2 separate regions of the Homo sapiens genome follow, and region 1 is linked to region 2. Evidence: fine-mapped expression QTL. A gene starts in region 2. The other region holds a variant in brackets. All regions are shown on one strand. Distances are between the middles of the regions.

The links. PIP is the estimated chance that this variant, and not a neighbour inherited with it, causes the effect.
Region 1: its variant is the best candidate, but not a certain one, in a credible set for the expression of TNS1 in whole blood (TOPMed, PIP 0.65).

Annotation. Positions count from the first base shown.
Region 1 is chr2:217,806,858-217,811,242 of GRCh38, forward strand. It overlaps TNS1 (tensin 1), which reads right to left. Exons shown (of 33, transcript NM_001387777.1): 29 at 3,391-3,462; 30 at 2,966-3,134; 31 at 1,746-1,814; 32 at 1,218-1,250. Among named protein-coding and RNA genes, the nearest start is that of DIRC3, 19 kb to the left of the region's middle. The variant C/T (reference allele first, on the strand shown) is at 2,276.
Region 2 is chr2:218,000,786-218,005,170 of GRCh38, forward strand. TNS1 (tensin 1) reads right to left here and starts at 2,210. Exons shown (of 33, transcript NM_001387777.1): 1 at 2,055-2,210. The coding sequence starts at 2,087. RefSeq lists enhancers at 654-1,154, 1,155-1,655, 3,396-3,495.

The sequences.
Region 1 (4,385 bases), 190 kb before region 2:
GCCCTTCCCTTGGGGAGCTTGCAGGCTGGTGGCCATGAGGCCCCTCCCCTGAAATAGCCCCTCCTACTCCCATTCTCATTTTGACCTGTCCAAATTGAACCTGTCTTTGAAGACCCGTCCTTAAATATCTGCTCTTTCCACCTCTCTGAGGTGCTGATGTGTTCTCCTGCATGAGCTCCCCAGACGTAAGCTGAACTCTCTTGCTGCCTCTCCCTCCCTTGCAACTGTCATTTTTTTAACACTGAACGTTTTGTTTTTCTAAAGCAACCTTATATGAAGTCTGCATATATAAAGGTGAAAGCAGTATTTTACAGCTATAAACAGCAATCCAAAAGCACGACATTTACCTATTATAAAGTCAATCAGTGAGGATAATAGGGCTGTTGGAATAATCCTGACAAAGTGAAAAGTAGATGACAGATCATGGTGATAGTCTCATGTCAGCTTCAGACCCCAGGTTATGCCTATATTTTGTTTGGTTTTGTGATTGTGAAAAAACCCTAGTTACTGCTGATAGACAACTGCAAGGAGCAGCAGAGCTTTCCCTCTCTTCTGTACATCAGGTACAATCCAAGGATGCTAGGATCCTTGGAATACAGTTTGAAAATCACAGAAGCATCTTAGTGCTATTTAGACATCTGTCTTATCTGCTGTGCCAATGGGCCTCCTGAGGGCAGGGTCAGAGACCCAGGCAGGATCTGAGTCCCTTGGAGGCCCCTAGGACATGTCTGCTGGATGGAGGAATCCACCCGAAGGTCCCAGGGCCATCCCCAGAATTCAGACTTTCTGGGCTCCCACATTCTGATAAGGCTGATTTGCTCGGCCACAAGACTCACAGGAAAGCCCACCAAAAAAGCAAGAGCAGAAATAAAGGCAGCTAGAATTGGGGCAGAAAAGATCATGTAAGCAATCTCTGACCCATTTCCATTGCTTCTAATAAGACTGTTTTCTGTCCACTTCCTGCCATCCCTGCTGCTTCTAACCCTGGGAGAGTGAAGGCAGCTGGACCAGACGCTGGGCCTCTGGCCTCGAGGCAGGACAAGGCAAAAGGCCTGGAAGCCTGGTCAAGCTTCACTCGGAAGCTGAGTGACCTTGGCACAAAGGTTTTTGCTGCTCTTTCCCTACCCCCAGCCCTGGTTTCTAAATGTGCCCCGTGCTTCCCTCACTGTGAAGTACAAAGGCCAGCCTGCTGGGCAGGGGTAAGAAGTCACACTTACTTAGCAGGGGCACCACCCTCTGTTTTCATCCACCTGTGGAGAGAAAGTGGGCTCAGGGTAAATCATCGTACTTTCTCCCTAGAGCCCAGCCCCACCCATGCCCAGACCCTCTGCAGGAAGGTCTGGGGAGAGGAGCTGCCCCCCATTCCCCCCTCATTCCCCCATTCCCCCATTCCCCAGGGACAGGAGCTGCCCAAGATCACACAGATGCATTCAAGGTCGAGAGAACACTGCAGCCTGCCTCCTGAGGGGCTCTCCCCATCATGGAGAGGAGAAGCAGATTCAAGGTCAGGGCATGGCAGAGGGGGTAGCAGTGGGCACTGAGTCCCTGGGAGGGTCTCCATATCTATAGTGGGAAAGACTCAAAAGATGCCCAACACGATTACTCACACATGGGCAGACCTTCCAGCTGAATGGAGAATGTATGCACATGCACACACACACACACACACATGCACATGCATGCACCCACACAGACGTCAGTGTTAGAAAGCTGTGTGGGAGAGAAGCTGTGTACAAGAGACTTACTTTCTTTCCTGTGGATCCAGGTCACAGAAGGTGACAGTGTTGAGAGGGTAGTGGCGTCTGAAAAAGAGCCTGCAGCACAGACATCAGATAAACAGAGAATGAGTGCTGAAGGGGCTGCTTTTCCCCTCCTTCCACCAGCAGGTCAGGCCACCTTTCCACCATCTGTGGCTATCGCAGGTCCACACAACTTCTCTCTTATGAGCAAGATGGCCTGAGCTGTTGACACTGGTGACCCAAGCAATGTACAGAGACAGATGTGCCATAGAATCATCCCAAATGCTAGGGGCTGGGGAAGGAAGAAACTGGCACTGAGGAATAGGAAATGTGGGGAGGGGCTGGAAGAAGAAGCAAAGAGGCCAGGGACACTGTTAGGAGAGAGTCCAAGTGGACGGGCTCTGCTCCTAGAAAGCAGGTCCTTTTTATCAGTTGTATTTACAGCCGTATACCCAATGCTGGCAAATTCTCATAGAAGGATGGATGAATGGGTGGATGGATAGATGAATGGAGATACAGATGGATGAAGGGAAAAA[C/T]GGGTGGTAAGGGATAGATGAGGGATGAATAAATGCAGGGATGGAGGCATGGATGGATGGATGGATGGATGGATGGATGGATGCATGGATGGATGGATGGATGGATGGATGGATGGATGCATGGATGGATGGATGGATGGATGGATGCATGGATGGATGGATGGATAGGTGCATGGATGGATGCATGGATGGATGGATGGATGGATGGATGGATGCATGGATGGATGGATGGATGGATGGATGCATGGATGGATGGATGGATGGATGGATGGATGGATGGATGCATGGATGGATGGATGGATGGATGGATGGATGGATGGATGGATGCATGGATGGATGGATGGATGGATGGATGGATGCATGGATGGATGCATGGATGGATGGATGGATAGGTGCATGGATGGATGCATGGATGGATGGATGGATGGATGGATGGATGGATGGATAGGTGCATGGATGGATGGATGGATGGATGGATGGGTGCATGGATGGGTGCATGGATGGGTGCATGGATGGATGGATGGATAAGTAGCTGGGTAGATGGGAGGTAGATGCAAGATAGATGGATGAGAAGGTAGATGAGCAGTTGGGTGCAAGGAATCAATCAAGTGGTAAATGTGTGGGTACACGGATGAATAGATGAGTCACAGGAAGGAGAACCCCACCGAGGAGCAGGCAGGGGAGTCTTACTTTCTCTGGTTGTCAGTCAGAGTGATTCCCTGGGCAGAGACTTTGAAGTGAACGATGGTGGCAGCTGGCGTGGGGTCTGCAGCCAACGTCTCAGATGTGGCTTTAGAGATGGCCTGTGGCCCAGTGAGTGACTCCATGTCCACAGAGTTGACGAAGAGCACATTGCAGGCTGGAAGAAACCAACCCAAGGGGGAGTCATGGGAGCTGGCGTGGGTGAGGACATTAACCCAGATCCATTCTTCAGGGAGAAGGTAGCAGATAAATTTCAGGCTAGCCTTGAGCCAAGGCATCTGCACATAGAAATGTGATCTTCCCAGAGACATTTGGGCCTGGAGAGACCTCCAGCCTGCACGTGCAGGAGGGGTCAGGGCAGGAAGGCAGAAAGAGAGGCCTGGGCATGGGTACAGTTTCAGGTGACCACTCACCTGCCCCTTGTTTCAGCAGGTCTGCAGTTGAGTTGGCAGGGCCGGAGCTATCTTTCGATTCATCTGTGGGGTCTAAGACAAAAATTCAGTAGGAATTAAAACCCTAGAGCTGGAAAGAAGCACAAGTTTGGCTGGGCTGAAGGTGAGCTCTGCAACTCTTTGGCAGAAGGAACGCTGCTTTTCATACCAGACCCTGGCAGTCAGCCCTGAGTTAGGCTCAGTCTGAACGTTTGATGATTGCTCTAAGCAGCCAGCACACTGGTTGTGAGCTCTGGAGTCCAGCAGAACTGGGCTCAAACCCTCACCCCAGCACTTACTAAGTATCTATAAAACAAAGACGATGATCATGGTACCCACGTCACTGGGTTTTTGAGCGACTCCATGTACAGCTTAGCCAGTGCTTAACATAAAGCAAGCCTTCAAGTGACAATTGGCATTGCTGTTATTGTTTTGCATTGATATATCTTTGTGTAGGTCAATAAATCCCCTAATTCCCCTAATTCATTAAACCATTGATCCAGCATAACTCTAATTTCAATATTAATAAGAATTGAGTGATGGATATATTAGCATATTGATGTAACCCACAATGTATGCATTTATCAAAACATCACATTGTACATGGTACATAATTTTTTTTTTTTTTTTGAAACAGAATCCTGCTCTGTCACCCAGGCTGGAGTGCAGTGGCATGATCACAGCTCACTGCAGCCTCAAACTCCCATGCTCTAGCAGATTATCCCACATTAGCCTCCAGCGTAGCTGGGACTACAGGCATGAGCCACCATGCCTGGATAATTTTTTTACTGTTTTGTAAAAACAGGGTCTTCTGATATTCTACAGGCTGGTCTTGAATGCCTCACTTCGAGCAATCCTTCCACCTCAGCCTCCCAAAATTCTGAAATTATAGGCATGAACCACCATGCCCAGCCAATATTTGCATTTTTTAACAAGTCCCTGGGATATGCTGACACTGCCGGTCTAGGCCCATACTT
Region 2 (4,385 bases):
GCCTAGAAAGGATGGGGACTAGGAGAGGAGAGGAAAAGGAGACAGGGGAGGGACACAGGCTTTTCTAGTCTTAAAGACACTCAAGGCCAGGCGCAGTGGCTCACACCTATAATCCCAGCACTTTGGGAGGCTGAGACGGGAGGATCACTTGAGGTCAGGAGTTCGAGGCCAGCCTGGCCAACACGATGAAACCCCATCTCTACTAAAAATATAAAAAATTAGCTGGACATGTTGGCACGCACTTGTAGTCCCAGCTACTCGGGAGGCTGAGGCAGGAGAATTGCTTGGACCCAGGAGGTAGAGGTTATAGTGAGCCAAGATCATGCCATTGCACTCCAGCCTGGGTGACAGAGTGAGACTCCATCTCAATTAAAAAAAAAATGAATAAATAAAAATAAAGACACTCAAGGAAGCAGCACTCACAGCTGCCTTGGTCCCCAGACTCTTCCCCTTACTCTCAGGGAGGGTATAACACCCATAGGGCACTCTACCTGCCAGGCACTGCCCTGGGGAATTGGATACAAAATTTCATCCCTACCTCTCTGTACCCTGTTTCTCTGCAATCCTCATTTCACCAACGGGAAAGCAGAGGCTCACCAGGATGAGGCACTTTTCCCAGTATCAGTCAGCTGAAGGGATCTATAGAGCCCTCTCTCCAGTCACAGCAGCTCGTCACCCCTGGAGGTCTACCTGCCATCCTTCTTGTGTCACCCCTGGACGTCTACCTGCCATCCTTCTTGCTGCAGAGCTCCCTCCTGCCTACCTCTGTCCTCAGCACAGAGACGAACCTGGCCAAGGCTCCCATTTCCCAGATGTCAACACCAGCCCAGTAAACCACAAATGCATCCTGTGTGCAGGCCTCCCCAGTCACTCTCAATCTATTAATCCAATCCATCCCAGCACCCCAGCCCAACATGCCACCCAAACCGCCTCATTCCAGGCCCCCTCCCCCACCCTTTCTTTCTTTGCCCAGAGGACACCTGGCTGCCCGAGTTTGTGTTCCCACAACTGCCCCCAGCATGGGCTTGCCTGGGCCAAGAGGGCCCTCCCGAGGACTGGCCAGAACAAGGAAAGGGACAGGAAAGGCCACATCTGGATCACAGCCCTGAAGCCCCCTCCCCCAAACCAGCCATCACTCTCTCAGAGCCCAACAGTAACCTCAGCCAGGGACGACTTCCTCACCCTCCTGACCCCATGCATGCCTTTGCCTGGCCAAGACAGCCCCACAGGAGCCCCTCTGAGGAAGGGGTCCTCTCCTCCTCTGACCCCCAGCCCTTCTGCAGCAGGCAGCCCTCTCCCATCCCCCTTTACCCAGGAGCCTCAGCCCAGGTCTGGCCTTAAGACTTTTAACCTTCACCACGTGGCCCCCAGGCCTCTCTGCTGGCCCCCCTGGCATCCCCATCCTGAAACCCACCTCCCTGAACCTGGAGCCAAGAGAGAAAGGGGGAAGAGCGGGCCATGGCTCCCTCCTCCAGGATGGAGAGGTCTTGGTAGCAGGGGAGGGCTGTGGAGGAAGGGATGGCAGTGGGTGGAAGCTGAAACTGGGTGTAGAAGGAATAAAAGGGATGGACTCTGAGAATTCTCCCACAGCCCAGCTCTTCCAGACTTAATATTTTGGACTACTATTCTTTGCTCCCCAGCCCCACCACTGCCTCCTCCTCAAGATCTTGGGCTCAGCAACTGAGGGGGGGCGGTGAAGAATTTTCACCCCATTGTAGGATGCAAGTCGGGAGGAAAGGCTCTAAAGAGAAGCAAACTTCTCTGTGGCCTCCTTCCACTTACAGCTCTGGGACTCCATTGGGGGGTGGGGGGGTGGGGCAGGGGATGTACTGACCCGGGACCCTGGGCCTGGGCCCTGTTGGTGGGGAAAGTCTTCCGGCTGAGGGTTGCTCAAGTCAGTCTGTCCTTCTGTAGGTCAGAGACAGAAAGGCCCCTCCTTCAAGACTGACACCCCCCGACCCCGGGCTCTCAGCAAAAGGATAAGGTGGCAGGGGCCGGTGGGGGGCGGGGGGTTTGAGGAAGAGTAACGTCGCAGCTAAAGCAGCCAGACCTACCCAGAGCATGCAGGACAGACAGATCCACGTCATCTTTGCTGGGTCCCGTCACTGAGGCACGCCCAGGGCCTGTGAAGAGCCCCTGAAGCTAGAGTCCCCGCGGCGCTGGCAGAAGGGCTCTCTGAGTCCGCGGCTGCTCCGGCTCCGCCAGCATCTGCTGGGCCTCTCGCCCTGCTGCCTCCAGCTCACCCTCCCTCCTCCTCCTCCTCCCCCCACTCCACCCCTCGTCCCAGCCTCCTCTCTCCTCCCTCCTCCCAGGCTCCACCGGTGGCCTTGAGGGTCAGGAACCCTGCTTTGCAGGGGGTGTAAAGGGGACAGGGAAAAGGGAAAGCTACCAGAGGCAGGGCCCCCCCAGGCCGTGCCCCCCACCCCCGGACACACAACCCCTGTGTGCCACCAAGGCTCCTCAGTCTTCTGATCTGGTGCTGGTAGGCCTGGAGTCCTCCCTCCTCACTGCAGACCCCCGCCCCTGGCAAACCAGCCTGGGGGCCTTCACTCCTGGAACCCTCCAGACCACTGATGGATGAACAGACAGCCCCAGGCCCACACAATCAGCACACTCAGGGTGCCTTGGCCCCTCCCCTTCTCTGAGTACCCGTGCCTGCCTTCCTGGCCTCCTCGGAACACACATGCATTTGCACACACAGACTGGGACAGACTCTGGTGCCCACGCGCCAAGCTCAGAGCCCAGGACAGGCCTTAACACAGAAGAAATAGGGCCCGAGACTGGGGAAGAATGGCCCTGCCCCCAGGCTGTGGGTTTCATTCCAATTTTTTTCCTATTTCTTTTTTTTTCCCCCTTCTTTCTTTCTTTCCTGCAAACATCTGTCCCAGCCTTTCCTGCCCTTCTGAAAGGGAGCCCCGCTCCAGGCTCCCGCGAGAGTGTGTTTTTCTTGACTGTACCCGGGGCCAACATTTGGTTTGCATTTCCCCACTTCCTCCCCCTCCTCCCCTCTCCCCCTCCCTGGGCCCAGTTCTCCCCTCCCACCATTCCACAGGCCTATTTCTTCCCCTCAGTGTCCCCTGCCCACCAGCCCTCCCCTCCCCTCGCCCCCACCTCTGCCCAGGGACAATTGTTGGGGGTCTAGAGGGTGGAAAGGAGGCTGGGTCAAAACCCAAAAGTATTCCCACGGAGCACTAAGGGGGAATCCAGCAAAGTCTGCCCCAGGCCTTCATTGTCTGGAACCACCACGTTCCCCTCCAAAAAAAACCCTTCCTCTTTGAGCTCTGGCCTTGGCTGGACCAACTGAGGGTGGGTGGGGGCCAGTGAATCACCCGCTCTGTTCTTTGGAGCTGTCCAGGAGAAGGAGGGAGGGCTCAGCCCCACACCCTCCTGTGGACACACACACACACAAGGACACAGTCCAACTCACGTCAACACATAAGAGCCCTCCCAGAGTAGGCACTTGGAGACCTCGTTCCTAGACTGAGTCACTTAGCAAGAAAAGTTCTCTTGCCTGGCCTCCTATGCACACTGTGCTATACATGCCCTGGGGCCACATGCACGAAGGGTTACAGATCCCCTGCCTCCCCCCCCCACTCACCCAAGGCCATGCCATGCCGCTGTCTGTCAGCACCACATACCGTGCAACTACCAGCCTCCTCTTTCACAGGGATCTGCCCAGCCACTTGTGCCAACTCCCAGCCCAGGGACCACCCAAGACATCTACCTGGGAAACCCCAGAATGAAGGGGAAACACTGACTCTTCATCTGAAAAAAAGACTGCAGTATTCAGATACACAGGTTGTCCACAGCACAAGGGACTAACCATCTATTGTTTGGTGGTTCTGAGAAGTCAGGGGAGGACACTGAAGTGAAGTGTCAATTTCCAGCCCTTCCTAAAGCAGGTACCTGAGTGAAGAGTCTTTGTTCCGGTAGAGGAGTCAGGGTCCTCTCTCCATACTTCTCCAAGTCCTCCAGAGCTCTGGGGCTGGGAAAGATCCTGCCTCTAGTGTCCTTCCCTGCCAGGATCACAATGTCCCTCTGGACCCCCTACTCTAAGCCTCCTGGGGCTTCACTGACATTTTAGCCAACGCTGAAATGAACCAGTGTTCCACATGCAGTTGGCCCTGCAGTCACAGCTGGGGATGTCCATAGACAGAAACCTCTGCAAACCCTCCCGTCTCCCCTGGCTGGAGCACCAGGCAAGCAAAGGGGAGTGGTCTTCAGGAGGCCTCTCTGAGAGCCCCTGAGCCCCTCCTCAGCCACTATCACCAGCTCTGCCAGGCTGCCCTTGTCCCCTGACAAGTTCAAGCCTTCAGCCAGCTAAGCCCTGACATCCCAGTGCCCACTCACACCAAGCTCCCCGCTGCCTGCTCCCACAGCCCTTC